Homo sapiens: one gene and its partners. The protein of the gene in region 1 interacts with the protein of each later gene in a biochemical or structural test. Each region holds a gene or a part of one and is shown in the gene's direction. Other genes may lie near its edges. The genes, in order: DRD2, NCS1, PPP1R9B and TRPC5.

Region 1 (7,035 bases):
CCAGATACTTGGGAGGCTGAGGCAGGAGAATTGCTTGAATCTGGGAGGCAGAGGTTGCAGTGAGCTGAGATCATACCATTGCACTCCAGCCTGGGCGACAGAGCAAGACTCTGTCTCAAAAAAAAAATAAAATTAAATTAAAACAAAAACAAAATAGGAAATAGAAGCTTTGGAGAAGTTGCCTTTCTTCACCCAGGTCACAGGGAGAAATGCTGATGGAGAAATCCCAAAGCAGATATTATTCTCCAGGAAGACACCTTCAGAGCCAGCGAGCAGATGTGGGAGCATTTAGGGATCATCGGTGGGCACAAGCTGGATCCTGCCCCTTTCTCTGCCCAGCTTTCTAGGATGGCATGTCCAGGACTCAAGCAATCTGGGAGTCTAGGTGCATGGGAAGGCATGGGATCAGGCATTTAGGAAAGTGCCGGTGCTCTGCCCACTGAACCGTTACCTTCCTTCCCTGAGCAGGAGAGGAATTGACCAGTGCCTCTGAGGCCATCCCTGCCTGAGAGGGAAGGGGTTGTTGAAAGAAAATGAGAAAGCTTTGTAGGTTTAAACAGGGGAGAAATCTAGATGAGGACGCTCAGGTGAGGAGGCGAGACTGGTGGAAAGTGGCACACCTCCCTGTCCCTGGGCCCCCAAGGGGCTCGTGCGCTTACTGTTCTCACCACCACCCCGGGCCCAAGGGAGCTCTGATCCATCACCCCTTGGCTTCCTTTACTACAGCCAATGCAGGCTGCAACTTCCAAAATGACCTGACTGGATATTAAGGAAGAACCAAAAGGAAACACAAATACAAAACCACATAAAAATATTCAGTTGACACAGGCCAGGAGTCCAATTCCCCCTGGATCCATGTTTATGAGGGCCCCTAGACTCTGTCCATGCCTTCTTAATTCTTACGCTTGATCCCCTCCTTCTTCCCTCTTCCAAAGGAGGGTCCTAGGTCTCAGACCATAGGGAAAAATGGTAGAGCAAACAAACTCTCTGTGCCTCAGTTTCCTCATCTGGAAAATGCAGATAATAATAGTATCATACATCATAGCATTGTTGAGGATCGAATTAGTTGATGTATGAAAAGTGATTAGAATGATACATGGCTCACAGTGAGCACTGTGTAAATGTCAGCCATGGCGATGATGATAAAGATGAAGATGACAATAGACATCCAGCACTGCTCCACATAGGGAGGACTCTGTCTTTCCTATTCACCGCCCCCTTGGGATAAAGAGGAAGGAGAGAGTACTCCCTATGTTCGCCCCAGGCAAGTAGGTACCCTCTTCCCAGAGGAACGTGTGTTCTACCCAGGGCTCTGGGCATGGCTTCTGTTAGCTTCCAGACCCCCTGTCCCTACCCAGGCACTTGGGTAGGGACAAATCCATACATGGGCTATAGGGGGTTCCCAGGAATCTGTAAGTCTTTCGAACAGATCCTTTAAACATGCTTGTTCACCTTATTTTAAAGGTGAAGCTGAGTGTGTCAGGGGAGGAGGGTGCAGAAGCCATTCTCAGAGGGCAGGGCTCAGACTTCCCCACAGCATCTCATCAAACTAGAGCTGGGCACTGAGCCTTGTTTAATGGACATTATCTCAGCGATTTGTTGTCCCTAGAGAACGTCCCAGGTGACGTCTCACCCTGCCCTGATGTCCTATCAGCGCACCCTCACAACCACGCACTGTCCCCTCTCTAATACATGCTCTTGTCATCCAGATTTTTTCCTCCTGTTCCATTTCCAGCAATGCCATGCCAACATCTGTCTGGCTTAGGACTAAGTGTGCGTTATTTATCTTGCTAAGTGTATGAAAAGCACGCTGGTTTTGGAGTGAGAGGACCAGGTTCAATTCCCAGCTCCATTCCTTTCCATCTAGATGCTATTGGAAGAGTTCCTGATGTCCACATGTGCCATTCCATGTCAGCCTCACAACCCTTTAAGGAGCGGCTTCCTGTGTGCATTTATTTTCTAGATGAGGAGATTGAGAAGATGAACAAATATCTCAGAGTTATTCATTCACTCAGTCAGCACTGACTGAGCACTCCGAGGTCTTACCCCAATCCTTGTGCAATGGGCTAAGGCACTGACCTGCTGGGGATGCAGAGGTTGACAGGGCCCCTACAGTGCAGTCTGCTGCCGGTGACAGTGGAGCAGTCCCCATAGGAGGTGTGGGGCATAAGGCCCAGCATGAGGGTGTCAGGGAAGACTTTCAGGGAGAAATGATGCTTTCGGAAAAATTATGCAGGAGAGGGAGGGAGACACTTGCATTCTCAAGAAAGCCACCCAGCAGGGAGAGGGAGTAGCTGGCTGGAGGTATGGAGGAGAGGTGGTTATGTCATTTGCCTCTGAGGCTTACTGTCTGCATTCTAAGATATAAGCATCAAGTGTTTGGAACAGTGCCTGACACATGGTAAGTCCTTAGTATTATTACAGTTATTAGGACTTAGCTGAGCCAGCTCAGGGCCTGTACTGCAGGTCTCAGCTTTATGTGAGCAAGAGCATTAAGGAATGATGCCTGGATGCCTGGGGGTGTGAAGAAAAGAGCCTTGGGTTCGACTAGGGAACCTGGGGCCACTCCTTCCTCTGCTACTAAATCACCAAGTGATCTTGTTCTGTTTTCTTCTCTGACCCTCCCTAGTTTTGTCCACCCTTGAAATAATCATCTTTCCTTTTCACATTTCATGCTTACCAAGTACTTGTCACCTAATTATCTCCTCTCTTGATAAGCTAGATGGTCCCTTCCAGGGCAGCTTAGTAGAGAGCATGGGATGTGATGTTTCAGATTCCAGCTCTGCTGCACACCTGCCAGGTGAACTTGGCCACGTTACATGGCCTCTCTGGGCTTCAGTTCCCTCACCTATGAGTGGGATAAGCAAGCCCTTCTTGTAAAAGTTTTAAGAACGATACATGAGATAAAGTGCAATGCCCACAGTAGATGTCTTATGGACAGTGGCCACCAATGCATTTTCTTGAGTCTTTAAGTTAGCAGCCCTAACTACTCTCCAAGGCAGCTTCCCCTGGGACCACAGAGGAAATCTCTTTGTTATTCTGGGCTCCAGATAGGCCAGTGCAAGGAGAGATTTAAGATGTCCATGAAGGCAGGACTGTGTCTGAATTGCTCACAACTGTGTCCAGGAGCCTAGGATAGAGGCTGGAACACAGTAATTTGCTCAATAAGTGTTTGTAGGAAAGAAGGGATGGCAGAAAGGAGGGAAGGAGAGGAGGAAGACAGGGAGGAAGGCCCTGATATCTCAACCTAGATCCCCAGTGGCTCCCAAGTACTGGTCCCAGGAGGGGCTTCAAAGTGGGATGTAAATCAGGTAGTGCTGGTTTTCTGCCCAGTGGTACCCTAAAGGCACACTCTGTTTATGCCAGGAAAGCCCTTTACGTACCCTCCTGCCTCCACCCGCAAAATGGGCATCCAGCTGTTAGCTCCTGCCAAACTGGTCAGCGCAGCAGCACAGGGAGCTGGGAGAGAGGCCCTGGTACGGGGCCCCCATGTGAGCTCCCAGGAAGACAGTGCCGCATGAGAGGCTTGCTGTGTTCTGGGGCAAGCTGCTGTTTCTGCCACACAGGATGACAGCAGCTGCATTGCCCATCATTGAGCTTAAATGCCAGCATTTGGTTGGATGCCTAGGAGCAGAAGAGAGGGCAGTGATCAGAATGAGCAAGGTTATAATTAGCCCTGCTGCCAAGCTACACGGTGACACGAAGTCTGCCCTACTCCGGGTTGCGGGAGGGGGCTTTCACGCTCCTCTCTGCTCCTATTGGTAGAAGCCAAAGGTGCATCTCCCTGTCCTGACTCCATCCTCAGGGAACTGGGGCTGCTCCAAGCTTCCAGAGCGCTAGGGACAGCTGCCGTGAGTGTGTGCCTGCGTAATCTGCCATGAGTGTGTGCCTGTGTGTGAATGGGTGTTACGTGGGGAGGGGGGAGGGCGGTGCGTTCATGTGTGTGTGTGTGTGTGTGTGTGTGCCTGTGTGCATGTGTGTATGAGAAACGTGCTCCTGCCAGGAGCTAGACTCTTCATTTCCCATCCTACCAAGGACACAGCTCATCACAGCAACCCCTCCGCCTACCCCAGCCCACTCGGGTGTTCCTCGAGCACTAGCCCAGATCTGCCTTCTTTCGTTCTCTGGGTATAAGAAGGAGCAGAAATTTCTTCTCTGTTTCATGGCGAGTCTTCATCTTCACCATTATTCTTAACAGATCATTTTGGGGCCCCGACTCTGCCATGTACTGGGCCAACCACTGAAGGGCTTGCCTGGCTCAGCCAGAGCCTGGGCCAGAGCAGGACTAGGAACTGAGCCCACAGGCCTTGGGGAAATCACTGCACTTTTTGGAGGCTTGGTTTCCTCATTGGTTCTCAGTTTCCTCACGGGCATTCTAAAATTTTACCTGGAATCTAATTTACAGAGGTATGGCTGAGTGATAACACAGGGAAGCCAGTGCCATTGGGAAGAGTTTAACGTGATACACAATGTCCCTAGAAACCAGATGCTCAGCCCGCCATGTGGGGTGCAGGGGGAAGCAGCAGGCTTGGGTCAAGAGTCAGAATCAGGGGTGAGGGAAAGCCCAGGCTACAGCCCTGTTGGGGCTCCCACAGGAAGTGCAAGGCAGGGCAGATTAAGCAACCTAGGGTTGGCTAGTCTCAACATCCTGGCAGGCTTTGGGCTACAGGGGTGATCTCTAGTTGTCTCTCTGGTACCTGAGATAATTTGGGACAGGGGAAATATTGTCTTGGTGTGTGTGTGAATTAGAGAAACGGGGTGGCTGGCTTGCATTTGAGAGGCATCCTTCCAAGTCAGTCATTTTCTGTCTTCAGGAATTAACTAGCTCTGGGACAGTAAGTCTCTCTCTGGGTCTGTGAGGCTCCCAAGTGCCAGAATATCAGGATCAGAGAAGATAGAAAAATATAGTCAATATAGGTGTCTCTGTGATGAATGGGTGCCAAATACACAAATACAGAATCTAAGAAAACACATGGGGTTAACAAAGGTTGCAGAGATTAAGGTTTAAAGTTGAGGCCCTCCGTATAAGTTGGCTGTCTTTCTTCTAGCACAGTAATTGGCAATAAGTGGTCTTATGTATCTGGGAGAAGATAAGCGAGGGGCAAGGGCCTCAGACACCCATGGGCATCACTCCCCACACCCCAGCTGGATGCCCACAAGACTTGCAGCTGCCTCCTGAGTCTGTGGCCTCATCGGCTCCAGGAGTACCAGGCTACAGGACCTAAGCTAATCTCCCACTCCTGCTGTCCATCCATTATGTTGCTTTGTCCCCAGGTGGTAGGTGAGTGGAAATTCAGCAGGATTCACTGTGACATCTTCGTCACTCTGGACGTCATGATGTGCACGGCGAGCATCCTGAACTTGTGTGCCATCAGCATCGACAGGTGAGCCCAGCCAGGGTGGAAGAGGTTGCTCTGGCCACTCACCATTCTGGCTGCCCCAGCTTTTCTCAAAGCCAGGCTGTGTCTCGTGTCTGTGATGCTGTGCAGCTGGCTGTGTGCATGGGGGTCCATGTGTTTGTGTGTATGGGTGTGCATGTGTGTATGTTTGGCTAGGAGAGCACACACTCCCTAAAGAGAAGCCATCTATGGACAGTGATGCTGCCAAGCATACTCAGACAGTGACTGGTACAAAAGGGGAAAGATTGTGATTCTGACGGAAGCCCTAGCTCTAGCACATCTTACTCATGTGACCTTGGGCAGATGATGGACGTTTTCAGAGCTCTCAGTTTCATTTTCTAGAAACCTACATTGATGACACCTGTGGCCTGGAGCTGCAGTATCTGGTTATGCATTTTATGTCCTTGGCACATGGCCAAGGGTCCCAGGCCATGCACACCTTGCTAAGCTGCATCCTTGGAGCCTTCCACTAATTTGCACAGATATGACCCTACCTCCCTCACACCATTCTTGGAAGATGAAATAAGTTAATGAATGAGAAGGGCTGGGTAAAAAAAAAAATGTGATGAAGGATTGTAGACAATTGCCATTGTTATTTCCTGCTAACTAAGGCTTAAATCTTGCTCTGAGGGGCCTGGCTAACAATTTATCAACAAACATTTCCACCTTATGGGCTCAACACAAGTGCAGTGGGTACAGTTTCAAAAGTGCAAAGATGCAGGCCATGGTTCTTCGAAAAGCCTGAAATCCAGGTGGGGCCGGTTAGAATAATAGATATGAGCTAAGAGTAAACAATAGCTCACCAGTGATTAAGTGTTTGGGCTTTGCCAACTGTCCTCGCCATCTGAGTTTGGGGACAGGAGGGAGGGTTGAGTTAGCATCTCAGGCAAGCTTCATAGAGGTGTGTCAACTGTTTAGCCCCAAGGAGTGAGGGTGTCTCTGGTGTGTGCATATTGTGGAGTGAGGGGTCCCTGGGCCTGCACCCCAGATTCAGGGTCCCCCGCCCTTGCAGGTACACAGCTGTGGCCATGCCCATGCTGTACAATACGCGCTACAGCTCCAAGCGCCGGGTCACCGTCATGATCTCCATCGTCTGGGTCCTGTCCTTCACCATCTCCTGCCCACTCCTCTTCGGACTCAATAACGCAGGTACATTCTGCTTTTGTTTGCCTGAGGCTCAGCTGGCCCTGGGCCCCTGCTCCCTCGAAGGGCCCTGAGGGAGCAGAGTCCCTGGCACAGATATGGGTGGAGGCCCAATGGAGGCCTATCACTACCCTGGACTGAGTCCAGGCTACGTGTCCTGGGCCAAGCCCCACTCAAGAGTTGTTCTAGGTTGGCAGAGAGGAAACAGTGGCCCAGGACACAACGGAGTTGGATGAGGAGTGGGGATAATGGTTCAGGGGTATGTCTGGGAATTTTCAACTTTGGTTATTAAGTTGAAGAGGCAAGACGTGCTTCACAAACTGCATGTGTGTATATGTGCACATGAACATGGGATGGCGGAGGCTACTGGGCTTCCATCCACTCCTGACAATAGTATTTTTGTAATGAAGCTGCAGCCCTCAGGGCCTGCTAAACCCAGGTCAGGCCTTAGCCACCTGGAGCAGGAAAGCTAGAAGTGAATAGGAGGTAAGCT
Region 2 (6,435 bases), on another chromosome or scaffold:
TTTTGAGGTGGAGTCTCACTCTTTTTGCCCAGGCTGGAGTGCAATGACGTGATCTTGGCTCACTGCAACCTCTGCCTCCTGGATTCAAGCGATTCTCCTGCCTCAGTCTCCTGAGTAGCTGGGATTACAGGCACACACCACCACGCCCAGCTAATTTTTGTATTTTTAGTAGAGATGGGGTTTCACCATGTTGGCCAGGCTAGTCTCGAACTCTTGAACTCAGGTGATCCGCGTACCTTGGCTTCCTAAAGGGTTGGGATTACAGACATGAGCCACCTCACCTGGCCTGAGTATGGATTTTTGGTTCTTTGGGTATATACCTAGGAGTGGAGTTGCTGGGTCATATGGTTAACTCTATGTTTAACTTTTTGAGGAACCACCAAACTGATCTCCAAACTAGTGACAGCATTTTGCATTCCCACCAGCAAAGGACAGAGGTTCCAGTTTCCCACATCCTTGCCAACGCTTGTTATTTTCCATGAAAAAAAAAAAAAAGGTAGCCATCCTAGTGGGTGTGAAGTGGTTGCCTCACTGTGGTTTTTTGTTGTTGTTGTGGTTTTTGTTTTTTGAGACAGGGTCCCACTCTGTCTCCCAGGCTGGAGTGCAGTGATGCAATCTCGGCTCACTGCAACCTCTGCCTCCCAGGTTCAAGTCATTCTCCTGTCTGAGCCTCCCAAGCAGCTGGAATTATAGGTGTGCGCAGCCACGTCCGGCTAATTTTTGTATTTTTGGTAGAGACCGGGTTTCACTGTGTTGGCCAAGCTGGTCTTGAACTCCTGGCCTCAAGCGATCCTCCTGCCTTGGCCTCCCAAAGTGCTAGATTTACAGGTTTGACCCACCACTCCTGGCCCTCCCTGTGGCTTTGATGTGTGTTTCCCTAATGACTAGGGATGTTGGGCATCTTTTCATGTGTTTATCGACTGTTCTATGTGTTGTTTTTAATGGTTTGTAAACTGTTTTATCCTGTGGGTGTGTCCTAATGTATCCCACCACTCCTCTGATACTGGACACTTAGATTGTTTTCTCTGCTTCCATTTTTGTTTTCTGTTTTCTGCTATTACAGATGGTGCAGTGGTAAACATTTATTTATTAAGGATAAATATAGGCTGGGCACGGTGGCTCACGCCTGTAATCCCAGCACTTTGGGAGGCCGAGGCGGGTCTATCATGAGGTCAGGAGTTCGAGACCAGCCTGGCCAAGATGGTGAAACCCTGTCTCTACTAAAAAATGCAAAAAGAAATTAGCCAGGCATGGTGGCGGGCGCCTGTAATCCCAGCTACTTGGGAGGCTGAGGCAGGAGAATCGCTTGAACCCAAGAGGTGGAGGTTGCAGTGAGCCGAGATTATGCCACTGCACTGCAGCCCAGGTGACAGAGCAAGACTCCAACTCAAAAAAAAGCAAACAAAAAAAAACCAAAAAACCCAAAGGGTGCCTCAGAGGTTATGCACATTTTTAGGACTTCTGACATAGAATGCCAGCTTGCCATCTATCGACCTTCCTGCCAGCTCTCTGTGCCTATCCTCCGTGGCCAGACCTTAACCCCTATCCGCTGTGGCTGGATCTTAACCCATCTTGCCTCCTTGTGTCTTCCAGATGCCTGGGAACCACTCACCTCCTTCTGTGCCATGAGGCCACCTCAGCCCTGACACCAACCCCGTGCGTCCACCCAGCCTTCTTCCGCATCCACACACAGCCGGCTGCCCTTGACCCGGGAGGCCCCGGCTCTCCTCTCCCCTGTCCTGCACCCATCCCCCGCCTGAAGCCACCGGCTCCAATTGCCAGCAACCTCTGCTTGTCCGGAAAACGACAACACGAAATGGAAAAGGCTACAGCCCTCTGCATAAACCAAGGACTTGGCTGCCTCGCAGGCAGCCTCCGTTCCTCCCGCTCTCTTGCGCGTGTGCTTTTGTTTTTTATTTTGAACAGACGTTTTAAAAGAAAAAAAAACAACTACCTTCTGTCCTAGAAGACACAGACTGACAGATGGGGTGAAGGCCTGGGGACCTCAGAGAACTCTGCCTTGCCCTCGTCCCTCGTCCTTCGGCAGCCGGAGAGGCTGTGGGTGGGCCGAGGGTGTCTAGGGGTTCTGCCTGGTCAACGTTATTTGTCGTCCCATCTTTTGGCAGCAAAACCACCTGCGTGGCTAGGATGATTAATTATGAGGATGATGATTTTTTTTGTGATAACAGTATTGTGCTTTTTGTGGGGAAAGTGAGGTTTTTTTTTATATACATATATAATTGATATCTTTAATTTATTGGTTGTTAACTGTTGCTGCTGCCTGGTGTGTCCTCAGCTCCCAGGGCTGCGGGCCCACCGTTTACATGTGCACGCCCTGACCCACCTGCCCACGCCGACTTGGGAGGATGGTGGCCTGCAGCGGCCAAGAAGCCAAAAAAAATTTTTTTTTTTTCAGATACTGTGCTTGATTTTTGGAGAGGGGAGAGGTGGAAATTCCTAAATGGCTAATGCACTGTTCCCTCCAGCCCGAATGCCTCCTGCCAAACCCCTTTTCCCTGCTGCCTCTGTCCCCGCATCCTTGTTCTCCCCTGGGTCCGTAACATTTTTTCCGAGGATGAACAGGGGACATCTTTAGGTTTCTCAACTCTTGCTTTGGTGTTTGCCGCAGCATGGAAAACAGGGCGCCTAAGGCTGGGAGCTGGAAGAAGGGGCATTGGGTACCCAGGCAGAGTCAGGAGAGGTGGTCTTTGAAGTAAGTTAGCAGAAATCAAGGGGACCCCCGCCTCCTTGGGCTGGGGAGGGGATTTCAAGATAGTTCATGACTCTCTCCCGCTCTGCCTTCCCTCCTTCCTATCTGCTTTTTCCAGTAAACTGCATGGTGTCCTTCCCTGGCCTTCTCTTGGCTCAAAGGCTGGGAGGGAGGGAAGGAGAGAAGAGTTCCAGGCAATCCCATCAATATAGTCCCTACACCTGGGGCTGCGGCCCACATGTCTTCACGGAGGCTTCCAGCGGTGCCTGCCACTGAGGCAGGTGCGGCCCCAGGACCATCACCAGGAATGCGAGGCCACCCTGGACCAGAGGTAGGAGCCCAAGGTCCGGCCCTTGCTCTTTGATTGTGGGCAGCCTCCTGCCCTCTCTGGGTCTCAGTTGCCCCATCTGCAGAGCGAGGAGGCCCGGGCTGGTTGGTCTTGAAGGCCCTTTTCCATGCCGACATCATGTCACTCTAGGCCTGGGGTTCAGTTTCCTGTGGCTGGTGATGCTGTGGTTAAGTTTGCTTGACCCCAGCAGCCCGAGGGACTGTCTGAGTCACAGCACAGCCCCTATTGCGTGGCTGCTGGTGTGTGGGGTCAGTTCCAGCAGATGAATGTGTCATGTGGCACACCTTGTCCCTTCCCGCAGCATTTCCTGGTTCCCCCCAGACCCTTGAGCGCTCTTTGGGACCCAGAAGGAGTCCTTGCACAGGGAAGGCTTGAGGTGAGAAGCCGCTTCCCAGACTGTCAGGGCCAGGCCTGGGTCTAGAATTCTTGCTGCTGCTTTGCAGAGTCAACAGCCCATCAGCCCATGTTTTAGAGGGGACACTTTGGTCCTCGGTTCCCACCCTCAGCAAGCAGGCCTCCAGCCCGAGGAAGGCCTCTGCCGTAGTGACGTTGCCGTGTGGGGCTGCGTGGCTGTTCCCCTTGGCTGGAGCATTCAGCCAACCCCAGCGTCCCCCCTGAGGCGTTCATTGGCAGCCCCCTAGGACTGCACGCTGGCCCCACGGTAACCCCCCCTCCCCCACCAACATCCTGCAGGGATGGGGTCAGTGGTTCCACCTTCACAGGCCACTTTGAAGGGTGGATTCTTTGAGGCCCCTGCCAGTCGGCTCCCTGCTCAGCTGCTGGCCCGGGCGACCTGGGACTCAGCACCAACGGCTGAAGTTTCTCAGCTGGGCTCTGACCTGGGGTCTGGGGCAGGGAACGAACATGGTGGCTTTGGGCTGAGAGGATGAGGGAGGTCTTTCCCAGGTCAAATTACTTTCCTTTGGCCTCTGCCTGAGGCTCGATTTGCCTCTCTGGTCCAATGGGACTGACACTGTTGTACAACCTGACCTGTGGCTGAGGGTGTCTGGGCTTAAGCATGTGGACCCCTTCGGTGTGTCCGGCCTTCCTCCATCGTCCTGCCCTTTGGCCTTTTGGTTTGAAGCCACAGGTGTGGCTTCTGGCCTTAGCAGATGGTATGCTTGCGGACCGCAGCCCAGCATGCCGGTGGGCCCACAGCCCGAGCCAGCCCAGAGCTGCCGGAAGGGCCGCCCTTCCCGGCCCTGGCGGGGTGCTGGACACTGGCCATTTTCACTAGAGTTTGCCTGGCAGGGACCGATCTCTGCCCCCTCCTCTCCCCAGGCCTCTGGCTGCAGTGATGCCGCAGAATCCTGAGCCAGGTGCCTCCTGAGCAGCCCGTGCGCCTCTCCACAGCGGCGTTTGCCACCCAATGCGGCTCGCTTCAGATGCTCTGATGCAGAGGGCACGCCCATAGTCCCTCTGCAGAGCCTCGCACTGGGGCCAGGGCAGGCACCAGCCCCAGGCGGCCAGTCGGCCACGGCCTGTCCTCTTCCTCGTAGCGTCTGCTCCTCACTTTGTGTTGATGGTGACTTAGGAGAATGTTCCGATTTTCCATGATCTAAGCAGGCCACGTTTAAAATAACATCAAGGCAAGCGTACGTGTCACCCTCTGTACTGACATCTCTTCCCCTGAAATGCTTTTCAGTTTGACAGCCCGTTTCCTAGACAAGTGCACCTGGGGTTTCAGGAACTTTGTGTTTTTTCGGAGGGGGTTGGTGGGGAGGTCGGGATGCCTGGGATCCCTTCCTGGAGAGGCAGGCTGTCTCTGGAAAAAGCCTCCATTGCCCACCCGCCAGGCGGAAAGTCACCCTGTTCCCAGCGCGGTTTCAGCATTTAATTTTAAGGGAGCTAAGGAAGCGCGGCGCGCCCCCTGGTGGTGGTAAGCCGCCAACGCACCTGGGGGCTGCAACCCCACCGGACGGGTGGTCCGGAGGGAGGCTGGAGCGGGGAGGCGAGGAGGGGGCTGTGAGTCCTCAGAGGCCCTGGGCCACCACATTTCTGGCAGCGTTTCCCAGACACCCCTCTGCTAGGCCATCCCTGGATAGCAAGTGAATTAACTTAAGGGCACTGTGATGGGAAGCCTTGCCCCCCTCTTTTTTTTTTTTTTTTAATATCTGCGGAATAAACCCAATGGTTAATTTTTGAATGAATAAAAGGCTTTTGTTGAATAAACAGCTGGTCCCATCTTCTGTCTTGGCATCTTAGCATCCAGGCTCAGGCTCTGCCCCTTCTCCAGGATGGGGTAGCCCCGAGTCGCCCTCCCCAGTCTGCACATTCCCTGTTGTCCCTGTTCCTGCAGTGGCTCCCGGCCCCAGGGAGGCCCACCTCACTCCCAGCCTGACTCGGTGGCTGGCTTCCTTCAGGACTTTGCGCAAGTCAGTTCTGCTCATTGGGTCTCAATTTCCCCATCCCTTGGATGGGAGCAAGAGTCTCTGCTGGGCCTGCCTCGCAGGGGCCTGGTGAGACCCAAATGTGAGTGTCATCATCAAAGCCCCTCACAGAAGTGGAGGACGGTGCCCAAGAGTAGCGGTTTGGACTGCTGCTGCCTCCCACCCGGAGCCTGCCACTTGGGGGAGAAATTGGTATAATGCTTGCAAAAACAAACAAACAAAAGGCAATGTCTTCTGGTTGTGGTTATTTCCTTTCCTGCTTGCCTCCCCAGCCCCCTTTGAGTCTCTTTTTGGGGTGCCGTCCTGTCTGAACCTGCCGGTGTGTGTCTCTGGGGCCAGGGTCAGGGCGAGGCCCAGGGGTGGACAGGGGCCGTGTAGCATGCCCCAGCCTCCCCAAGCTCCTGCTGTATGTCGTCCATGTCACGCCAATTAAACACGCTTCCTGGACTTGTCCTCGCCTCCCTGTGTGGGCCTGTTGCTTTGTCTGTTTACATTCTTCTCCGTTTCGTTTTAGGTTTCTTCCCTTTGTGACACCCTTTCTCTGGCTTTGGGTGTTGTCTTCCCAGTTTCCTGAAGAGAAAGAATGTGTAGGCCGGGTGCAGTGGCTCATGCCTATAATCCCAGCACTTTGGGAGGCCGAGTTGGGCGGATCACCTGAGGTCTGGAGTTCGAGACCAGCCTGGCCAACATGGTGAAACCCCGTCTCTACTAAAATACAAAAATTAGCTGGGTGTGGTGGCAGGCGCCTGTAATCCCACCTACATGGGAGCCTGAGGCAGGAGAATCACTTGAACCCGGGAGGCGGCGATTGGAGTGAGCTGAGACCACACCATGGCACTCCAGCCTGGGTGACAAGAGCGAGACTCCATCTCAAAAAAAAAAAAAAAAAAAAGAGAGAGAAAGAATGTGCAAAGTGAGAACCTTGAGTATACTTTTAAACCAGAAAAATCTGCAGGAGTGTTTCTGCGAGGCCTAGAGTTGAGTGG
Region 3 (7,108 bases), on another chromosome or scaffold:
ATACCCTGCAATCAGTAACAGCCAACACTCTGAGCCCCCTTTTAGTGCCTTATGCATTGAGGACCCATTTATTCCTCACAAAAACTCTATGAAGTTGGTATATTATCTTCATCTTATAGATGAAGGAATTTGTTGAAGCCCCTTAGCTGGGGAGTGGGAGGTTGGAGATTCTAACAGAGATGGCCTGGCTTCAAGGCCTGTGCTGCATGCACAAAAGTGAGGGACACCTAGGGTTATCTATGCTCAGGAAACACTCAGACACTCAAGCTAAGCTTTTTGAGGAAACAGGCTTTGGGAGGGGACACGACTAGCCCACGGTCATCCAGCAAATGAGTGCAGCTAGGACTCAATTCAGGCCTCATGAACCCTAGCCTGGTCTGTTTCCTTTAAAACTAGGTATGTCACTTCTCAGCTTTCGTCATTCTCCCTGTGAAGAGGTCAGCCAAGGGCCACTAAAGGCCCCTCCAACACTGACATCCTGGATTTGAGGTGTACACACACCTTTCCAGCATACCTTTCCAGCATCCTATAACCAGCCCAAATCCCTGGCAGAGGTCAACTCTTGAAGGAGAGCAACTGGGTGGGGACCACTGGCTCACCACAAAAGGATCCAAGTGCAGGGTCTGGGCCAGCCTCTGCTTAGATGACCGTGGCCAAGGAAAAACCGCTTTTAGAAGCTGAGTCTCAAGGCCCCAGGGCTGGAAAGAGAAGCCAGCCTTGGCACCCAGCCCGGGCCTGCGCCCAGGGCGCTGAGGGCTCGGGACTTATCGCTCGTCAGGCCTCTCCCTGCCTTCATCACTATCTTTGCAGTTACACCTGGTGTTTAAAACTAGCAAGCCTTGGGGAAGAGTCCTAACAGAGCATCTTCCCAAGGGCCCTAAGCAGATTTGGGGGGGTGTGGGAAAGCTGTGGCAGGGGGGCGGTTACCAGGAGGAGAGTTGGGGGTGAATTATCTCTGCCTATCGCAGCCTCTGGCCTTTTTAGCACAGGCTGGGAAAGGCGTCTCCTCCCCCACACCCTATCTTCTGTGTCCGAGCCACTCTCGTCCTTTCTGGGCCTTCTTTCATCCTCCCAGGGCACAGAGGAGGATAAGTGACTTGTCCAAGGTCACACAGCCAGTAAGCAGTGAAGCCAAGATTTGAACCCTAGCAGCCTGGCTCCTAGGTCAACCACTCTATGCCAAGGCAAAGGTAAGGAAGGAACTTCCATCCAAAGACCACTGGGCAACTTGGCCATCAAAGTCTCTTCCATGAAGACAAAGGAAAGAGAAAGGGTGGTTAAATTATCCTGGAGTGCTTCCTCACTGGAGGATGTAGGTGAAGATGACAGCCCAATGAATGAAAATTCTATTTAAAGCCTTCAGTTTGGATGGTAACCCTCCCAAACCCTCCTTGTTCCTATCAGGTGCGATTACTGCTCCAGACAGGCAGAGAAGGGATGGAGGGAATGAGACCCCATTCTTCACCCATCTCACAGGCCAGCCGGCTTGGTGCCTGACACCAGAGAACAAGTGATGGTGAAGCACTTACCGCTCCATAAAAGCGTCTTTGGGAATTCTGGCCAGGGTGTTGCTCTGCTAACCAGGAGCCCATGAAATAATAATCCCACTGATTAGCCTCAGTCCCCCAAGCTCTGGCTAGCTCCACCCTCTTGAAGCCCAAACCCCCTAGAAGGGTCTGTTAAAGGGGTTTGTCCGGAGATTCATAATCCTTTGGACAAGGGAGACCCAAGAGCACCCCTGTAATTCCAGTTTGCTCTAAGCTGCTACCGGAAATGCTGGGAGTCCGAGGGTCTCTGGGCCTGGTAGCTGGTTCTCAGCTCCTTCTCCCACCCTCAGAAACTGGGGGCTTCCCCACCTGGCCAGACGCGTGGGCACAGACCCCTTGGGCTGGGACCAGTTAAGATGATCTACCACCAAGGGTGTGGGAGATTCTGGGCAGAACACAGGGGCCTGCGCCCTCCTCCAATCCACACAAGAGCTTCTGAGTACATTGTACAAACTTCCAAACCCCAACTGGGTGAGGTTTCTGTCTTCTCCGGACTTCTATATTGGGGTTGGGGGGCCTGTGGGGAGGGGTTTTCAAGACCCAATCTTGAGTTTGGAAATCTAAGTCCCAAAGCTTGCTCCTGACAGAGGCCTTCTAAGAAGGGTTAGGAGACAGACTTCTTCACCCTGCACCATCCCAAAGTGCAAAACTGGGGAGGGGTAAGTTTCCTGGGCAACTGGGCAAAGATGCAGGTGGCATTTGGAAAGTGTGAGGTCTGGGTTCACTTCCGGCTCTAGCTCACAACCTAGATCTTCCCTCTTCCTTAGCACCAGCCTCAGGATCAGTCCTGCGGTTCCTGGCCCCTCCCGATCCCAATATCCAGGGTTCCCAGGCGGCTTCCCCACACCCCATCCCCCACGCTGTACTCTAAGCTCTTTTGCACATGGTAACGCGTTAATATCCCACAAAACCCACACACACCCCTGCAGTGGAGTGGTAGGAGGGCTCCCTTTGCCAGCCCTTCCAGGCCAGGGGGGAGAGAGTGGGAGATTAGGAAAAGGAGGAAGAGGATGGAGGGGAAGAGGGCGGGGGAGGAGGCAGAGGCCGCAGAAAGGCCTGAGATGCAGGAAGCAGCTGGGAGTGGGGGGAGGCTTTGTGCCTGAGTTGTTCTCTGGGTCCTAGGGCCCATTGTGTTCACCAGTTTCTGGGATGTGTGGAATGAACCAGCTCACCTGGACCTGTCCAGAGGGCGGACTCTCACACCCAGGGCCCAGGCAGCGCCAGCACCCTAGCTGTGTATGCGGGGGGTGCAGAGGGCATCAAACAGCTTTCTGGGTTGCCAGGACAGGGGATGTGTAAGTCACTGTCACCCTCCCCACCCCCCCACCCCAACCGGAACACAGTGGCCAGGATCCTTTAAATCAGAGACCCAAGTTAGAGCTCTCACTGGCGAAACTTTGGCCCCAGGCCTCTCGAATTCCTGCTCCCAAACCCTTCCTTCCGGTTTGAGAGGCAGGAGTGCCAGGGTAGGGGCCTGAAGACGGGTGCACAGCAGACAGGCGACAGGACATCCTTTCCAGACTTCGGCAGTTTTGGTGATCCCCTGCTACTTGGATGACGGGGTTCACCTCCTTTCTTCACCACCCCTCCCCCACCATCGAAAGGTCACCAGCGCTGGACCAAGGTTTCACACCTCCAAGGGGGCCAAAGATTGCCTGTAGTGAAGTGTTAAAATGCAGATTCCTGGGTTCAGCCTCGGAGATTCTCCTTCACAAGGTTCGAGAGAGATCCCAGAAATCTGCATTTTTACCAAGTGCCCAGCGATTCTGATGCTAAAGGCTTGAAGCACACCGAAGAGCTAGCTCCGAGGACACTGAAGAATGAACCTCTGCCCCTCCCTACAAACCCCCTCCCCTCACACTGAGACCATCGTGGATGTACTGCCTCCCCCCAATATTTCATGGAGGTGCGGTTCTGTGGGTTGTGACCGCAGTCAGAAGTTGTGATGGAAGCAGGTTGAAGAGTGCTGGCCAACGTCCGGGGGCAGCGGAAGGCTCTCCGCGAGGGCTGGGGAGGGGAGGGGATCCGTTCGGGTGGAGGGGAAGGGGAGGGCTCACAGGCTCCGGCCCCGGAAATCCGATCCCTTTAGGACCCAGAGGTGCCAGTCCCCCAGCGGCGGCTGCGAGAAGGGCAGCCGCTCGGTCTCCGGCAGCCGCCGCTCGGGCAAAGCCAGAGAAAGACCGAGGCTCGGGGCACGGGGGGGAGGGAGGGAGGGAGGGAGGCGCGGCGGCGGAGCGGCCCGGGCCGGCGGAGCAGCCATGGGCGTTGGGGTGCCGGGCCCCCCGAGAGCCGAGGCCTCCGGCCGGACTGGGGGACGCCCGGGCTGCCAGCCCCGCTGACACCGTCTCGGACGATGTGAGCCGGCGACACCGCGGCTGCTTCGCGGGCAGGGCGCGCGCTCCCACCGGCCCCAGACGCCGCTTTGCTAATTTGGGTGGGGGCGACCGTACCAGGCCGCTCGGGCTTTTGAAGCGGGGCTGGCTGTCTTCGGCAGCTTGATTGGGGGAGGCGACCCACACACAGGGCGCTTGGAGATTTTTTTTTTTTCATTTTTTTTTTTAAAGCGGGATTAACTGTTTTTGGCAGCTTGGTTTTGGGGGGACCCTAAAAAAGGCCTTCGGGGTTTCTTTTATCGGGGGGAGGGGGCGGTGGTCCCGACTTGGCCAGCCGCCTGTTGAAGCGGGGGAGCGGGGAGCAGGGGCATGCGAACCCGGCTCCCCCCACCATGATGAAGACGGAGCCACGGGGGCCCGGGGGTCCCCTCCGGAGCGCCTCCCCGCACCGCAGCGCCTACGAGGCGGGCATCCAGGCGCTGAAGCCGCCCGACGCGCCCGGGCCCGACGAGGCACCCAAGGGGGCCCACCACAAGAAATATGGCTCCAACGTCCACCGCATCAAAAGTATGTTCCTGCAGATGGGCACGACGGCGGGGCCCTCGGGCGAGGCGGGCGGCGGCGCGGGCCTGGCCGAGGCCCCACGGGCGTCCGAGCGCGGCGTGCGCCTGTCGCTGCCGCGGGCCAGCAGCCTGAACGAGAACGTGGACCACAGCGCCCTGCTGAAGCTGGGCACCAGCGTGTCGGAGCGCGTGAGCCGCTTCGACTCCAAGCCCGCGCCCTCCGCGCAGCCTGCGCCGCCGCCGCACCCGCCGTCCCGGCTGCAGGAGACGCGGAAGCTGTTCGAACGGAGCGCCCCAGCGGCCGCAGGCGGCGACAAGGAGGCCGCGGCGCGGCGGCTGCTGAGGCAGGAGCGCGCCGGCCTGCAGGACCGGAAGCTGGACGTCGTGGTGCGCTTCAACGGCAGCACCGAGGCGCTGGACAAGCTGGACGCTGACGCCGTGTCCCCCACGGTCAGCCAGCTCAGCGCCGTCTTCGAGAAGGCCGACTCGAGGACCGGCCTCCACCGCGGGCCCGGGCTCCCCAGGGCCGCAGGGGTTCCCCAGGTCAACTCGAAGCTGGTCAGCAAGCGGTCCCGGGTGTTCCAGCCCCCGCCGCCGCCGCCGCCCGCCCCGTCGGGGGATGCCCCGGCCGAGAAAGAGCGATGCCCCGCAGGGCAGCAGCCCCCGCAGCACCGAGTGGCCCCTGCCCGGCCGCCCCCCAAGCCCCGGGAGGTGCGCAAGATTAAGCCGGTGGAGGTGGAGGAGAGCGGGGAGTCGGAGGCCGAGTCGGCGCCCGGGGAGGTGATCCAGGCCGAGGTTACGGTCCACGCGGCCCTGGAGAATGGCAGCACCGTGGCAACTGCAGCCAGCCCCGCGCCCGAGGAGCCAAAGGCCCAAGCGGCCCCGGAGAAGGAGGCGGCGGCGGTAGCGCCGCCAGAGAGGGGGGTGGGCAATGGCCGGGCCCCGGACGTGGCCCCTGAGGAGGTAGATGAATCCAAGAAGGAGGACTTCTCGGAGGCGGACTTGGTGGACGTGAGCGCCTACAGTGGGCTCGGGGAGGACTCTGCGGGCAGTGCCCTGGAGGAGGACGACGAAGACGACGAGGAGGATGGGGAGCCCCCCTACGAGCCCGAGTCGGGGTGCGTGGAGATCCCGGGGCTGTCGGAGGAGGAGGACCCAGCCCCGAGCCGGAAGATCCATTTCAGCACGGCGCCCATCCAAGTAAGTGAGCCCCCCCGCCCTGCCCCCGCGCCGCCCCTGCCACGTGCACGCGGCCGCCCCCGCTCGCCAGCCAGCCAGCCGGGTTTGGCAGGCTGAGTCAGCCCCTGCCACCCAGCCCCCTTCCCAGAAGTTCCCACCCTCAGGGGGGCGTGGGGGAGTTCCAGCTGTTTGTCAGAGAGGGATTTTCAGGTGTGCGAGGGGGGTGGCCTGCCCCGACCTGCCCTCAGGTTCCTCCGCCTGCTGCCCCGCCCCGCCGCTCCGCGGAACCCGCCCTGCCCCACGCGGGTCCTGGGACACCTGCTTTCCCTTCCTCACCCGGACATTCCTTCCTCCAGAGGCTGCCAGAGGCTGGGGTTGGGTAGTGTGAAGGGGTGTGTGTGTCTTCAGGAGAGACATTTGCCCTTCACTGGGTAGAGAGGGGGCCGGGGTGCTTTCCCCCTGTATGGGAGCTGGATGAGGTGAGAAAGGGGAAAGCCAGGAACTTCTCAAAACGAAGCTGCAGGGGACCGCAGGCAGCCCTTCCTCTATTCTGTTTGTACCCCCACCCCAACTTTGCAGAAGTGAAAGAGGGAAGCAGATCGTGAGGGTGAGCTGGTCTGTGGCCATGTGACTGGCTGGCGCCGTGTTCCCTGGGGGTCCCTGCAGGCCAGCTGCCCGGTCCTCCTTGCACAGGGAGGGGCACTTTGTGTGGTCCTTGATGGGGAGAGGCCTTCTGCAGGCATGGAGGAGGAGGAGGTGGGGCTGGGATCCCCCTGGGTGCCTGGCAGTAGTGGGCATGCCTTTACTCTTGGCTGCTCAATAGGACAGACTCCCATGGCCTTGGCAGGCCCCAAGTGTTCTTGCCACATTCTCTGGGAGCCCTGAAAGAGGGATGGGAGCTGCCCCTTTTGGGGGTCTCATCCCCACGGCCACTATTGGTGGTTGGTTTGTGGGTTGTGCCAGAGCTTTGAGATCCTCAGAACAGCCCTGATGGGGAGGGAACATCCCCTGGGGGGAATCAAAAACCCCAGGCCACCCCTCCCCCCACTTCCCACCACCCTCCACTCTTGGCTAGCACATTCAGCCTGCAGGGTTCTTCCTCACCGCCCCAGGCTCAGCTGCACCCGGCCCCAGGTCCGCCCCATGGAAGTGTCCAGGTCCCTGGACTCTCCTTGGCCTGGACCCTGCCCTGCCTTTACCCTTCCCTAGCCAAAGCACCATCTGTTTGCTTGTCGTTTCCATAACTACTCCTGGACTCTGAAGCTTCCCAACTTTCCTCTCACTCGCCCAGAATGTCAGCCTCTGCCCCTCTCCCACCTCCCACCCCAGCAAGAGGCCTGAAAGGTTAAAAGTGAGTGGCTCTCAGGCCAGCCTCTCCCCTGGGCTGGGACCTGCGGGGTCCTCTCCCAACCCCTTTCCCCTCCTGAAGGCAGTGGGGTTCTGAAGGGAATGGGGGACTGTAGTGTTTCTTGGGACTCTGAAGCAG
Region 4 (7,035 bases), on another chromosome or scaffold:
ACCACAATCAGTGTCAGGAATGAAGGAAATCTGCTGTATGCATTCTTTTAATATTCTGAGTGTTTCTCAGTGTGGAAATTGAATGCTTTAAATGATGTGGCAAGGATGCATGGTGGTGAGGGACAAGATAACAAAGGGAAGATGCCTGCAGACTTAATTATCTTCTTTACTTAAAAGATATAAGATCAAAAAATCTGTTATTAAATCTAAGGTCTTAAGAAACTCTACCATTAAACATTAAAATTATACTAGTGGCATTAGCCTAAAACAACCGTTTTCAACCAGGGGCAATTTTGTCCCCAAGACCACATTTGGCAATGTCTGGAGATATTTTTGGTTGTCACACTGGTATCTAGACAGTAAAGACAAGGTTGCTACTAAGCATCCTACAATGAATAGTACAGTCTCCCACAACAAGAATTATCCAGTCCAACATGTCAATAGTGCCAAGATTGAGAAATCCTATCCTAGAACACATCTATATATATATTTTTTAATTTTTTTATTATACTTTAAGTTCTGGGATACATGTGCAGAACATGCAAGTTTGTTACATAGGTATACATGTGCCGTGGTGGTTTGCTGCACCCATCAACCCATCATCTACATTAGGTATTTCTCCTAATGCTATCCCTCCCCTAACCCCCACCACCTGACAGGCCCCTGTGTGTGATGTTCCCCTCCCAGTGTCCATGAACACATCTATATTTTCTAAGGCACACAGAAAGTCCATTATCCTAATTCATAGACATAATTCATCTACTGAGGGTCTGCTATGTTCCAAGCACTCTGCTAAGTGCTCTGGTACAGTGGTGAGCAAGATCTAACCAGCTCCTACTCTCAAGGAGTGACAAACAATAATAAAGGGTGATGAACAATTTTATATTCTGACAGGTTAAACACAGGACACTGTGGAAACACAGAGAGGAGGGACGCTCATCTGGGACTTGGGGAGTCAAGACAGACTTTCCAATGGAAGTGATGCTTAAGCTGAGGCTTGAAAGCAAAGCCAGCCAGATAAGGGCGAGTTGGGGAGAAGAATGTTCTAGACAGAGAGAACAGCATAGGCAAAGGCCCAGAGGCAAGGGAGAATATGTCCATACAGGTGGACAGCAGAGAGCCTAGGAAAAGAGTAGAAAGATGAAACTGGAGAAAGCAACATGTACTAGGCCTTGAAAAACCTTGTAGTCCATGGTATGGCATTTCTACTTTTTCCTAAAGTCAGTGACAAGTTAGTAACAAGTTTTGAGAAGGGGAAGTACATGAACAGATTTCAGCTTGGCTTTTAAAGGAACAATCTAGTATGTAAGCAGCCAGTTGGAGATAGAAGACATTTCATAGAGGTTTGAACAGGGCCCCCTGTCTCAAAACAGCAGTCTCATCACCTGACATTCAACTTTTCTAGTTTCACTCGTTAGAGTCTTAAAAGCTTTTTCCTCTTCAGTAGTCCTTTTATATGCAGACACCTGAGAGCCAGTGTCCTAATCTAATAACTTGTTAGTTAATACTTAGCAGGAGTTAGTCCTTATGAAAGCACCTCAACAGACTAATCCCTGCTAAAGTGTTAGCTAATCCTGAATCAACTTTACCCATTGTACAATTTTGCCAATGGCCAGCCCAGCCCTGCCCATGGAATTATTAATATGTTTTTCTTGTGTTTGAATAATGGCAGATTTTTCTGGTGTTTTGTGATTTGCTACTAGGCAAAAACCTGGAACATACCAAAGGTATCTAATGTGCCTACTTTGAAATAAAGACCAAGCTTCTTGACATAATATGTCTCCTCTCTTTTCCCAGGAATTAAAGCAAGACATCTCCAGCTTTCGGTATGAAGTGCTTGACCTCTTGGGAAATAGAAAACATCCAAGGAGCTTTTCCACTAGCAGCACTGAACTGTCTCAGAGAGACGATAATAATGATGGCAGTGGTGGGGCTCGGGCCAAATCCAAGAGTGTCTCTTTTAATTTAGGCTGCAAGAAAAAGACTTGCCATGGGCCACCTCTCATCAGAACCATGCCAAGGTCCAGTGGTGCCCAAGGAAAGTCAAAAGCTGAGTCATCAAGCAAACGCTCCTTCATGGGTCCTTCTCTCAAGAAACTGGGTCTCCTATTCTCCAAATTTAATGGTCATATGTCTGAACCCAGTTCAGAGCCAATGTACACAATTTCTGATGGAATTGTTCAGCAGCACTGTATGTGGCAGGACATCAGATATTCTCAGATGGAGAAAGGGAAAGCAGAGGCCTGTTCTCAAAGTGAAATTAACCTCAGTGAGGTAGAATTAGGTGAAGTCCAGGGCGCTGCTCAGAGCAGTGAATGCCCTCTAGCCTGTTCCAGCTCTCTTCACTGTGCATCCAGCATCTGCTCCTCAAATTCTAAACTTTTAGACTCCTCAGAGGATGTATTTGAAACTTGGGGAGAGGCTTGTGACTTGCTCATGCACAAATGGGGTGATGGACAGGAAGAACAAGTTACAACTCGCCTCTAAGTCAAGCCCTAATCATCTGTTCTGGAACTCAACAGAAATCTGTAATTTCCTTGCTCTCAGAGGTGACACAGAATATGATTCCCTCACTGCCCCTGCCCCCCAGAAAGGAGAGTGAAACTCTTATTTGCACCATCTTTTATAGCCACATTCTCCATTTTTGTTCTTGTTTTATTATTACTTTCATTATTATTTGCCTTTTTAATACCTATACACACTAAGTCCATCTTACAACCGACTGAAGGGGTGTTGCACCTAATCATCAGAGGTGCAGTTGGGTGCTTAACCTTTTTGCTTTGCTTTTCTCACCCATGCTTCCTTGAAGCCCCAGGTGCCACTTTGCTGGTCTTGTTGCCGCACAGATTCCTGACCATCCTCAGAATCTCATGCCATTTTCCCGCAGAGCTGAGGGATGTGGTCAGCAGTCCCCACCAGCTATCAGATAAGGCAAACTACCCTGCCCATCTTTGTTGCCATTCAGTGCTACGCGCTGCCCATGCTGGGTCAATGAACAGCATCAAAGGGAGGCTGAAGAGATTTCAAAGAATTGTCAGCTTGTGGTTTCTGGGTATAAGTGGCTTGTTTCGTTCTTAAATACTACAACTTCTTATTGTGGGGGCTATTGAGTTTTCTTGTTTCTTAAAGATGTGTTAGTTTCCTAATGTGTGCCAATGAAATATTTACCCCATAGTATATGTCATATCTAATAAGTTAGGCGAATTATTTTTCTGTTTGTGTGTTTCAGTTAACTTACTACATTTGAAAATTTGATAGTATCAAAATTAGTATTTAGAATTTGTGCTATTTTTTAAAAACATCTACTACACTCTAACCAATAGTCACTACATCTCATACATTGGCAAGATAAATAGTTGTCATATTTGTTGGGTCCTATTCTACTGTTGATAGTTTTAATTATCATTGCTATCAAATAATTTCTAAGATAAAAGCCTGAATTTGAAATATTTTTATCAGAAAAATGGCATATTGCTGAAGTGTCAAAATATGAGAAAAGAGCATCTTCATTTTAATTAACTGCTTTATAAAAATGGCAACTTTAGGTATAGATAACCTAATTCAGGTTGCAGTTTTAATATTCATTGGGGGCAGTGGAATTGCATGTGTAAATTATGTTAGATATATATCATAACAACCCTAGTGGATTCATGGAATTATAAACGTGATCCAAATTCTACTGTCTTCCAAGAAAGCTACATTTATACATCCAAACAAATTCTTTTCCACAGCTTAAGAGTACCTCATCAGAATACAGTGGTTCAAGTTAAAAAATAAAGTCCATAATGCATATGGTCATCATTCTAGACCTGATAACCACTGAGAACCTGCTGAGCAAGGACGGCTTTTACCAACATTAGCACAAAGGTTTCCTCAGTTTAGACTCTAACATATGACCTGAAACAACTCTAGGTCTGAGTCCTAGAGATTACATAAATAGTGTGTAGCCCAGAAAAGTAAAATAGGTGTCACGCTGTTTTTTTTAATGTCAACACCAATAGGAATCCATTTAGATTAATGTATGTAATTTCTGATAAAAGTAAGAGAAATGAGGAACTTTCGAACTGCAAATATGCCTCCAAACTAGCTTTTGATAAGTGTGGTTTCTGTTATTTGAATGGATTCCCATCTTTGTCTCTAGCCTGGAGAAGAGCAAAATGGAGGGGGAGGGGCCAGAAATAGGAGGAGGTTTTGAAGAATAAAGCCTCATATCCAGGAAAAAGTGATCAAGTGAAAAAGCTGCATCAAGACCCATTTGGCAAGAGGTTGTCCGAAAATAATTCCTTGATCATATCTGAAGTGGTTATTTACTCAAATCAATTTCTCCCCTGCTTCGCTAAGACTGTCATAAAATGGCCTTGACATTTAATCACAGGTTACTTTCCAGAAAGGTTTCTAAAGTTACAGATTCAGCTTTTCAAATTGTCAAATTCACTTTGAATAATAATAGAACCTGGGCTACATTCCTAACTCATATTAACAGCACCAAAAGAAATAGCATATAACCCCATTTTATAAAAAGAAAAACATGTTTTTCTCAGAAATGTATATCACTTCTGAAAACTTATAAGTTTTCTAGCAGTGACCTTATCAACTTGTCAGAAAACAGGCTAGCCAGACATGGAACTGTATTCCAAAAGTCTTCTGTCACTTACGTTCTAAAGAGATAATATGTGTAAATCAATCTCTACTATTGAAAGAACCAGTGTCATATGTCACGGGAGTACATTCCTTTTCAGATCTTCTCAGGGTTATCGTTGTGACTTGGGCTTAAGACTTTACTAGCTATAGTGAAGCCTCATTTAGGATGGGGGTTAAAGCTGAACAGCTATTGCCCTAACTTCCATGTTGGTGACACCAACATTTTTATTAACTCTAATTCAGTACAAAGTAGGAAAGGAAAAAGATTTTGTTCACTTCCTTACTCTCTTGATCAAGTATCATAAAAGGTATTTCAAGTGAAAATGCTTAGGTATATCCTCTGACCCCAGAGGAGTTATAAGCCAACTTGAGAGTAAATTTATAAACATAAAAAGAACTAAAAGAGAACTTTATAAAGGATCTACTCTATTCCAACCTCATATTTTACAAATAGAAAATAAAGAGGCCCAGAGAAGGACAATGACTTGCTCAAGGTCACAGAGCTGGTCAATAAACTCAAGTCTTCTAGATTATAGAAGACATTTATTAGTAAGCATATATGTTATATATAGATGTGAAGTGGCCACTACAGACACCCTTTTGTTCATTTGCCAAAAATGCTGTGAACTCCAAAACTTCAGACTTACATATTTAAATGTGAAGTTAAAAATGTACTGCAAAGTCAAACACAAATAATACAAAAATCATTTACTACTTATCTAAAATATCCATATCATGTTCCACCTACATTACAGTTGGCTTATCACTTCCGGACACCTTGGATTCATTTATTTGATCTCATAAAATCTCCCTAATAATAAAGGTAAAAATTACAAAGAAAATATTTGAATTATATTAGAAAGTGACCATTGTTGAAATATCTCCACTTCCAGCTTTATGTCCAGTGAAATACAGAGGAAAGACTAAATTTAAAATCATTTTCGGAAAATGCCAAACTTTACAGAGATATAAATGCTTCAAGTTACGCTTCTGTCTACTGACATGGAGATATTAAAAAATTCCCTGTTCTGCCTCCATCATTTTTCATTCCACTGTGACCTAACTTAGGCTATTTCAGCTAAGTCGTAAATACCTGTCTGCAATTTGATTAAATCATTTTTAAAAAACGAACGCCTCCACTTTTCAAATGACTTAATACCTTTTCCAAAAAGAACTTTATAGTTCTTATGGCAGTGCAAACCTCATCTGAAAACCTCAGTGGGAACTTTAGAGATAAATATGAGGCCAAACCTTAGCCTGAAAATACAAATGACCATTGGCATTCATGTTACATCATGGGTGAATCTCGTGTGGTGTTTTGACTAATAGTTTTAGTGCCCCAGACCTTGGTTTGTTAAATCATCAGGTAAAAAGTACTTGAAGATAGGCAGCAAATCCTTTGTTTAAAAGTACCTTAGAAAAATTGAGGCTGGGCATGGTGGCCCACTCCTGTAATCCCAGCACTTTGGGAGGCCAAAATGGGTGGTTCACTTGAGTCCAGGAGTTTGAGATCAGCCTGGCCAACATGGTGAAACCCATCTCTACTAAAAATACAAAAATTAGCTGGGCATGGTGGTACACGCCTGTAGTCCAACTACTTGAGAGGCTGAGGCATGAGAATCACTTGAACCTGGGAGGCAGAGGTTGCAGTGCACTGAGATCACACCACTGCACTCAAGCCTGGGCGGCAGAGCGAGACTGTCTCAAAAATAAATAAATAAAGGTACCTAAGAAAAATTGAGTATATTTTCTTGGTAATCAAGTTTTCAAAAGATTGCTCATATAGACATAGTCAATGCAAATTGATCCAAGTGTTCAGATCATTTAAATAACCTCTTCATACCTACTTCACAGCCCTACCTTCAATCCCTGCAGCTTTGCCTCAAAACTAAGGATATTTTAGATTGTTTCTTTGGCTTACTTTATCTAGATAATTGCTCCAAATATCCACCTTGTTGGTGTAGGACTCGGCAGTGGGATCTGAGTACCCCAAATGAATGTGAGCTTTACTTCAGCAGAGAGAAACATTGTTACCATTATATTTCCAATGAACCTTCCAGTAACTTTTTTTCCAACAGATGTGGGTTTTGGCTTGCTTTGCCTTTTGAGGGATGTCTGTAAAAGTGAGAACGTGTCTGTGTATATACATAGACACACATAACAAAACTTAACAGCATTTGATGGTTCTGCCCTTGGCCCTTTATCCCTTTAGGTAATTACTAGATCATTTTGAAGAGAGGGAAGCAAGAATAACTTTTCAATGAGACATTTCCTGAGCTGTGAGGAATTGCCAAAATGAACTGCCATGACAGCATCTTCTGTAGCACTTTTATATTGAGAGCTATCAAGATTTGAGGTTCCTGGTTTTGTTTAAAAAAAAAAAAAGCATTTAGG

The links.
Region 2: the proteins of DRD2 (region 1) and NCS1 form a complex in vitro, tested with the Homo sapiens proteins (2 studies listed by BioGRID, with this or other methods).
Region 3: the proteins of DRD2 (region 1) and PPP1R9B form a complex in vitro, tested with the Homo sapiens proteins (one study listed by BioGRID).
Region 4: the proteins of DRD2 (region 1) and TRPC5 form a complex in vitro, tested with the Homo sapiens proteins (one study listed by BioGRID).

Annotation. Positions count from the first base shown.
Region 1 is NC_000011.10:113,416,376-113,423,410, reverse strand, and holds part of DRD2 (D(2) dopamine receptor), read left to right. Parts: intron 1-5,274; coding exon 5,275-5,384; intron 5,385-6,411; coding exon 6,412-6,548; intron 6,549-7,035. UniProt on the Homo sapiens protein: Dopamine receptor whose activity is mediated by G proteins which inhibit adenylyl cyclase. Positively regulates postnatal regression of retinal hyaloid vessels via suppression of VEGFR2/KDR activity, downstream of OPN5.
Region 2 is NC_000009.12:130,231,397-130,237,831, forward strand, and holds the end of NCS1 (neuronal calcium sensor 1), read left to right. Parts: intron 1-1,593; 3' UTR 1,594-5,907; downstream 5,908-6,435. UniProt on the Homo sapiens protein: Neuronal calcium sensor, regulator of G protein-coupled receptor phosphorylation in a calcium dependent manner. Directly regulates GRK1 (RHOK), but not GRK2 to GRK5. Can substitute for calmodulin. Stimulates PI4KB kinase activity.
Region 3 is NC_000017.11:50,147,678-50,154,785, reverse strand, and holds the start of PPP1R9B (neurabin-2), read left to right. Parts: upstream 1-4,108; 5' UTR 4,109-4,272; coding exon 4,273-5,643; intron 5,644-5,958; exon of another isoform or gene 5,959-6,051; intron 6,052-7,108. UniProt on the Homo sapiens protein: Seems to act as a scaffold protein in multiple signaling pathways. Modulates excitatory synaptic transmission and dendritic spine morphology. Binds to actin filaments (F-actin) and shows cross-linking activity. Binds along the sides of the F-actin.
Region 4 is NC_000023.11:111,771,765-111,778,799, reverse strand, and holds part of TRPC5 (short transient receptor potential channel 5), read left to right. Parts: exon of another isoform or gene 1-145; intron 146-1,797; coding exon 1,798-2,487; 3' UTR 2,488-7,035. UniProt on the Homo sapiens protein: Forms a receptor-activated non-selective calcium permeant cation channel. Mediates calcium-dependent phosphatidylserine externalization and apoptosis in neurons via its association with PLSCR1.